Homo sapiens: one gene and its partner. The protein of the gene in region 2 interacts with the protein of the main gene of each other region in a pairwise test. Each region holds a gene or a part of one and is shown on either strand. Other genes may lie near its edges.

Region 1 (3,600 bases), on a different chromosome or scaffold from region 2:
TTAACAGTGATATGATAATGCTGGTTCTATGCATCTATTCAAGTACGTTTTCAAAGAATTTTTCCCAAGTAAAAAAGCTCATATGTTCAATGAAAACAATTTGGGAAAAAATTTAATGCTGACCTGGAAAAACATTATATATGCTACTGTCATATATTTAACATATAAATGCAAGTATATTGAGGAAAATATTCTAAAATGTCCACAGTAGTTAATGCTGAATGGCGGGACCCAGTGGCTTTTCATTTTCCCCCATTTCCCAAATTGCCTCCCGTTACCTTGTGCTACTTCAATCTGTGAATCCCAGAGCCTCCCCTGCAACCCGAGGACAAGGGCATGCAAGTCCGAAGGTGCCTTCGCTCGCCGAAAAGAGACTCAGACACGGAATCGTAGCTCAGTTTTATTTTCTACAGAAACAAACATGTAAGCCGTCCTCCTCCAGCGACAAACAATCAGGCCCCCACAATGAACTGGCCACTCGTGCTGGGACCATTCCCTAGGGGAGGAGGCATGACCTAGGAAGGGGCGCCAGGCTGGGCTTAGCGCCTCTGCCCTGAGGGAGGCTGAGCCAAAAACACGGGCAGAAAGCACTGCGTGATCCACATCAACAGGGAAAGCTGCTGGAGACAGGAGCTGATGGAGAGCTGCAGTTGGCGGTGGTCTGCAGCAGTCAGTCGGCTAAATGTGAGGGGCAGAGAACATCACGTTAAAGGCGACACCTCTGCACCCATCTCCCTGGGCTCCCTCGGGTGGCGGCGGGCCTGGTGTACCAGGTCTCTGTTCTGAGACCCTGTGCTGGGGTGTTCCCAGGTTTCTAGCAGCCTGACCGTGGGGTGTAGGCGGATCCCAGCCCCCACCCTGCCACGCTGTGACCGCCACCCACCCAGGCCCCATCCCTGTCCTGGTCCTGAACTGACATAGTCAGTATGTTGCCGGACACAGTGAACTCCTTCAGAAGCACCCCTGGCACGGGAAGCGGTGGGGCATCCTGGGCCAGGCTCCTGCGGGCCAGCTCTGCTTCCATGGGTGTCGCGAAAGGCATGGCGAGGTAGCTGGTGGGGGCCCAGTTAAGGCATCCTCTCCTAGGACTTGGCCTGTGGCTCCGGCCTGCTGCTTACCCCAGGCCAGCTTCCCCCTCCCCCACTCCCCCACCCCTCCCCCCTACCCCGGATTGCCCAGCCCATCCCCCCCAGGCTGTCTCCCCAGGCACTGGCCCAGTAGCACACCCCACCCAGCTGTCTTGGTTCCCCACTTTCCTTTGCTGCACCCCAAGCTGACTCCTCCATGCCCTTACAAGACCCCTCCCCACCCTGCCCCCTGTGGCATCACCCGGCCCCCTCCTCATCACTCGACCCTCCATCCCAACCACCTCCCGCCACCCGCTCCCATCTTGCCCCCTTCCCCCCACCTCCTGATCCCCTCCTACACCTGGGTCCCCCTATCTCCTGGCCCCTGCTCCCCTCCCCGCATGACCCGGTGCCCCTCACCCAATCACCCAGCCCCTCTCCCCCACCCCCACCCCCTCTACCTCCCAGCCCTTACCTCCTCCCCTCCTCGCAGCTGGCCTCTCATATCCCCACCTCCCAACCCCCACCCCCACCCCCACCCAACCACTTACTCGCATCTCCCCCGCCTCCTCCCCCACCTGGCCCTGCCCTCCCCATCTCCCGGCCCCCACCTCGCCACCAGAACTGTCAGAACAGAACAGAACAGAACAGAACAGAATACAACTCAAGCAGGCGGCTCTCCGGCCCCCTGGCCCCGCATCTGCAGCATCCATTCAGCCCTGAAGCCGCGCCGCCATGCGGACCCCGCGGGGCGCCTCCTCCCGGCCCCGAGGCCCTTGCTGCCCCTGCGCCCCGGGGACCTCTGCCGCCCGTGGCACCCGCCTCTCCTGGGCCGCCAGCATTGCCCCCTGGGCCATCAGGAATGCCAGGGCCTCCTGGGCCATCAGCATCGCCCGTCGAACCCCCTGTGCCCCGGCCTTCGGCCTGCATGGCTCCGGAGCCTCTGCCCGGCTCTCAGAGAGAAGGTCAGGGCCCACGAGGATGCGGAGGCAGAGAGGCTGCAGGAAGTTCCGCCCCCTGGCGTGAGATGGGCAGCCCGGGATCCTCAGGGCGCCTGCGCACAGGGGCCCTACTTCCGGCCCTGGGAGACCCCGAGTGAGCCCCGGAGCACGTGACCGGTTCTCACCAACCCCGCCCCTCCCCAAGAGAGCCCGGGCCGGAAGGTGGCCGCAATGCCAGCTTGGACCCCTCACCCCTGAGCAGCCGGCTGTCCGCCGGACCCCTGTCCCGGGAGCCCTGCAGGGAGTCAGGCACTGCGGGGCCCAGCCTGTCCCATCCCCCGGGTCTCCCTCACATCGAGGAGCAAGACGGGCCTGGGAACACGGGGCCGGGACTGTGCGGCCATCGTCCCGGACCCTGCCTGCCCTGTCCGTCCTTGGGGGAGCGCCCAGGACAGACCCCGGGGGGCAGGCCTCTAACTGGGCTCAGCAGCCTCCGTCCCTGTCCTGGTCGCCCAGCTGGTGGGGTAGCTGGAACTGCATGTCTGGTGGGCGTGGCCTCGCGCCAGCCAAGGTCTCCCAGGCGCCAGGTCCAGCCAAGGTGGACGGGAGGGCCCAGCGGGACCCGGGGCCGGATCTCACTCCTGGGTTCAACGGGTTCTGTCCCTGTCCTAGTCGCCCCGCCTGGTGGGGGAGCTGGAGCTGCGTGTGGGGTGGGTTGCGGGTGGCCTCCCACCAGCCAGGGGCTCCCGGGCTCTAGGCCTGGCCCAGGTGGACAGGCGGGACCTGCTGGACCTGAGGCTGGGTCGGGCCTGGCTCCTGGGTTCGGCAGTATCAGTCCCTGCCCTGGTCGCTCTTGCCTGGTAGGGAGCTGGGAGGTGACCCTGTGTCTGCTCAGTGGTGATCTATTTGTGTGTCTGGAAGGGGGTCAAATCCACGGGACAGGTACCTCTAGAGGCATGCAGGGGTGAGGGCGGCACGGCCCCGGGAGCTGAATGTCTGTGCCAGGCACACCTGTAGCAACAGGAGGTGACCAGACAGGGCCTAGCCCTGAGGAAGGGGGAGGTACTGAAATCCAAACCACTCTCCCCCACCTTCCAAATCCAGGAATCAGCAGCCTCTGCACCTGGGAAAAGCATATTGGCACTCATGTGGAAACTAAAAACGTTGATCTTTTGGAGGTAGAGCAGAATGATGGTTACCAGACGCTGGGAAAGGTGGGGAGGGTGGGGAGGTTAATGGGGACAAACATATAGTTGCATAGAAGGATTAAGTTCTAGTGTTTGATAGCACCGTAGAGGGACTATAGGTAATTATTTATTGTATATTTCAAAATAGCTAAAAGATAGGAAATGTTCCCCAAAAAAAGAAATGATAAATGCTTGAGGTGGTGGAGATCCTAAATACCCCGACTTGATCATTACATCGTGTGTGCGTGTGCATGTATCAGAATATCACATGTATCCCATAAATATGCAGAGTTATCATACATCAGTTAAAAATGTTTTTACTTACAGAAAAGAAAAATTCACCCAAGCTCTTGCGTGTACCTCCAGTTTATTATTTTCACTGCTGTATTTCATTACATATATTTC
Region 2 (3,943 bases):
GCTTGAACCCGGGAGGCGGAGGTTGCAGTGAGCCAAGATCGCGCCATCGCACTCCAGCCTGGGCGACAAGAGCAAAACTCCGTCTCGAAAAAATACAAAAAAACCTGCAACCCAAGAAAAATAGTATTACTCTTTAAGTATACTGAGGCCCAAAACACTAAACAAAGGAAGACAGTAAAAGAAACGGGTTTAAACTCAATCACCTAAATAATAGAGGGGTATGGGGGAAAAAGAAAATCATCTGCCTAATCCCAGGCATTCCAATCGTTAGGAAGAGCAAACTTTAAAACTATCACTATGTTTAAGAGTCATAATTATTATCGAAAATGATGTAATTTTTTAGTCAGTAAAAAGGAATGCAAAATCTTTACATTTTCCTTTTAACGGAATAAAAATGAGGTAAGCACAAAATAATGTGGATCCGTCAGAATTGGGTATCTTATACACACGCAGGCTTATTGTTCAGAATAGATAATTTACGAACTGTAGCTCCTCTGGGGTCAACGAAGAGTTTTTTTTTTTTTTTTTTTTTTTTTTTTTTTTTTTTTTGAGACGGAGTCTCGCTCTGTCACCCAGGCTGGAGTGCAGTGGCGGGATCTCGGTTCACTGCAAGCTCCGCCTCCCGGGTTCACGCCATTCTCCTGCCTCAGCCTCCCAAGTAGCTGGGACTACAGGCGTCCGCCACTACGCCCGGCTAATTTTTTTGTATTTTTAGTAGAGACAGGGTTTCACCGTTTTAGCCGGGATGGTCTCGATCTCCTGACCTCGTGATCCGCCCGCCTCGGCCTCCCAAAGTGCTGGGATTACAGGCGTGAGCCACCGCGCCCGGCCAACGAAGGGTTTAAATTTAAAGGAACAAGGTCAGTGACAAGACTTAACTGTAACGCTTCTCGGACTTCAAATTGATTACATCACGGGCCACTTCGGAAACCGCGCATCAGTCAGAATTGGTAGTTCCACAACCTTTTAAGTTGAATTTTCACTCCCTTTCAGCAATACCTTCCTAGCTCGTTAATACACAATAATAAGGTTTACACGGACGAACACTAATTGAAATTATGCAACTAGAAGCATCTCATTGAGCGTACAAAAAAAAAAATAGCTACAAGTCGCTCTCTTCTCCCACACTACCCTTTACAGACACTGCCTTTTTGACCCAATACTTTTCAGAGACCACTCCTGATCGTCTTTCTCTTCCCCAGCCCCTTTCTCCACCGCAAATTCTCAGGCCCTAAAAAAAACTTAGAATAAATCACTAGCCAGGGTGAATAAGCGAAAATGGAGGAAGTTCAGTGAGGCGAAAGGAACGTAGGGTTGGGGAAGAGAGGAGGAAAGTTCTGGAAAAAAAAAGGCACTCCCTGCGGCTCCCCACCCCCACCAACACCGCCTTACTTCCCCCTCCCTACAGCAGGCAGCCATGATGGCGGGCGCAGAAGAAGGCCGCGGCGCCATTTTGTCTACACACATACACACGAACAAGGTTCTGGGAGCCGTTCACCCACTGTTGGAACGTAGCAGAAAAATATCCCTGGCTTTAAACTCAGATTCGGTACCTACCGCCATAGTTCAGAGTCCCGGCCGCTAGAGCGGCGCCTCCACTTGTCGCTTTCAACAGTACCGGCCGCTCCGAAGCTTCGCCTCAGACTAAATCGCTCGCGCGAGAGACCCGGATGGCACAAAGGCGAGGAGGCCCGGCGCGTCGCACAGCTTGCTGGGAGAAAAAGGGGCGGTAACAAAAGTTTCTATAACAACGCAATTCGAGGCGGTGATTGGGTGTTCTTTCATAGGGGAGTGTAAAGACCGTGAAGAGGGCGGGGCCAAGAATACACCCCCGGAATGCGCAGTCGGGAGAACGGAATGGGCGGAACTCAGGGTGGGGCAACTTCCTATTTCGAGTCTAAAGTAATCTTGGTCTCTTCCGGCCGCCGTAAAGGGGTTGGGTTTAGTGTTCTCCCGCCAATTTAAGCCTGTGGCATGGAACCTAAAGACTAGAGGCGGTTGTGTGAGTCAGGAAGAGGGGCCAGATATCTGAGTGTTCCTCTTTAGTTTCTTCAATTGCAGGTGAGGACGGGGAGCTGCGCTGTGTAGGGAACTGGGGGTGGGTTCAGGACGAAGTAGCTGCAGCCTCTGCTCAGTTCCTGTTGTTTTCCCCTTGACGCTGGCAGGAGAGAGGTTGGAGTCGGTTTTTGCTGGCGGCGATGTCCAGCGGAGAGCGTTTAAGTATGGAGGCCTAACTGACAAGTGTTTCATCTTGCTCATTCTCTCGTATTCGCGAATCTGTTCTGCATTCCGCCGCCAGAGTGATCTCAAAATTATAAAATCAGACCACTCGTTTGCTGAGTTCCCCTTCTACCCCTTGTACTGAGAATAAAATTCAATCTTGAGGTCGAGGTTTTATTGGACTCCACTGCTCTCTCCCTCACTGTCTTCTGCTTTTGCTTTGACCCGGCAGCAGCATCAAACGCTTCCTACCCAGCCTCCGAGTCTTTGCACTCTGTTCCCTCTGCCTACGTCGCGTTCCGCCTAAGTTTTGCGTACTTCTTGTTATTCAGGTCTCAGCTCAGATGTCACCTCCTTCCCTTCCCAAACAAATCCTTCTTCAGCGACGCCTCACCTTATCCATTTAATCACTGTTTCCTTCAAATCATTTAGCACTTTTTGTAATTATTTGTGCAGTTGCTTTTTTGTGGAGGTAGCATAACAAGATACGTATTAACAATTTTATTTTTGTCCGTTTTTCCCGCAAAAACATAAACTTCATAATGGCAAAGACATTTTGTGTTCTGTTCAAGCTATATTCCCAGTTCCTAGAAAGGTGTCTGGCACATAGTAAATAGGTATTCAATAAACATTTGTTGAATAAGTAAATATGGCAGTTACGGGCGGTTTCTCTATTTCACAGATGTGGGAAATTGAGACCCATAAAGGTATTCATTCCAACCTGTCCCTCCTTCTTCATCTCCTCACTCCCACCCAAACACCAGCCACTGAAACTTCTCTATTCTCCAAACATGTTTTGTTTCTGTTCCCTTGCTTATGCTCTTAGGAAGAACTCTTTAAACATTTATAAAACTATGATCTTCAATTCTCAGCCCAATAACAAATTAGCTAACACCTAAAATTGAATGTTTGCCATCAACCAAGCATTGTTCTGTGAACATTTAAAACTCAAAACATTTGGAGGCTGAAGCAGAAGGATTGCTTGAGCCCAGGAGATCAAGGCCAGCCAGGGCAAAATAGTGAGACCCTCGTCTCTCAAAAAACCAGAAGTGAAAAATAGAAAACTCCTTCAGGTGGGTACAACTAAATTAGTCCCTTGGTATTGGTATCCATGGGAGATTGGTTCCAGGACCTCCCACAGATACCAAAACCCTAGGATGCTTAAGTCCCTGTCATTAAATGGCATAGTATTTGCATGTAGCCTAGGAACATCTGCCTGTATACTTTAAATCATCTCTTGATTTCTTATCTTGCGTAACAGTGTAAATGTGCTATGCCTGTAGGTGCAATCTAGGGATGTGGAACACATGGATATTGACGGCAAACTGTATATATATATTTTTTTTCCAAGACGGAGTTTCACTCTTGTTGCCCAAGCTGGAGTGCAAGTGGCACGATCTCGACTTACTGCAACCTCCGCCTCCCGGGTTCAAGCAATTCTACAGCCTCAGCCTCCTGAGTAGCTGGGATTACAGGCGCACACCACCACGCCCGGCTAATTTTTTGTGTTTTTAGTAGAGAGGGGGTTTCGTCATGTTGGCCAGGCTGGTCTCAAACTCCTGACCTCAGATAATCCACCTGCCTAAGCCTCCCAAAGTTCTGGGATTACAGGTGTGAGCCACCGCGCCGGCCTGGTCTGTATATTCCTATTTTATAAATTAGAGAATTGAGGAACAGAAAGATTAAGTGATCACCCAAGGACAGCTGCCTAGTCATTGTGAAA

The links. The genes of interacting proteins can lie anywhere in the genome.
Region 1: the proteins of RSRC2 (region 2) and CTAG1B interact in binary tests that used the Homo sapiens proteins (3 or more experiments, as listed by UniProt).

The regions. Positions count from the first base shown.
Region 1 is NC_000023.11:154,617,222-154,620,821, forward strand, and holds CTAG1B (cancer/testis antigen 1), read right to left. Parts: upstream 2,062-3,600; 5' UTR 1,998-2,061; coding exon 1,729-1,997; intron 1,053-1,728; coding exon 918-1,052; intron 679-917; coding exon 540-678; 3' UTR 388-539; downstream 1-387.
Region 2 is NC_000012.12:122,525,291-122,529,233, forward strand, and holds the start of RSRC2 (arginine/serine-rich coiled-coil protein 2), read right to left. Parts: upstream 1,647-3,943; 5' UTR 1,564-1,646; coding exon 1,558-1,563; intron 1-1,557.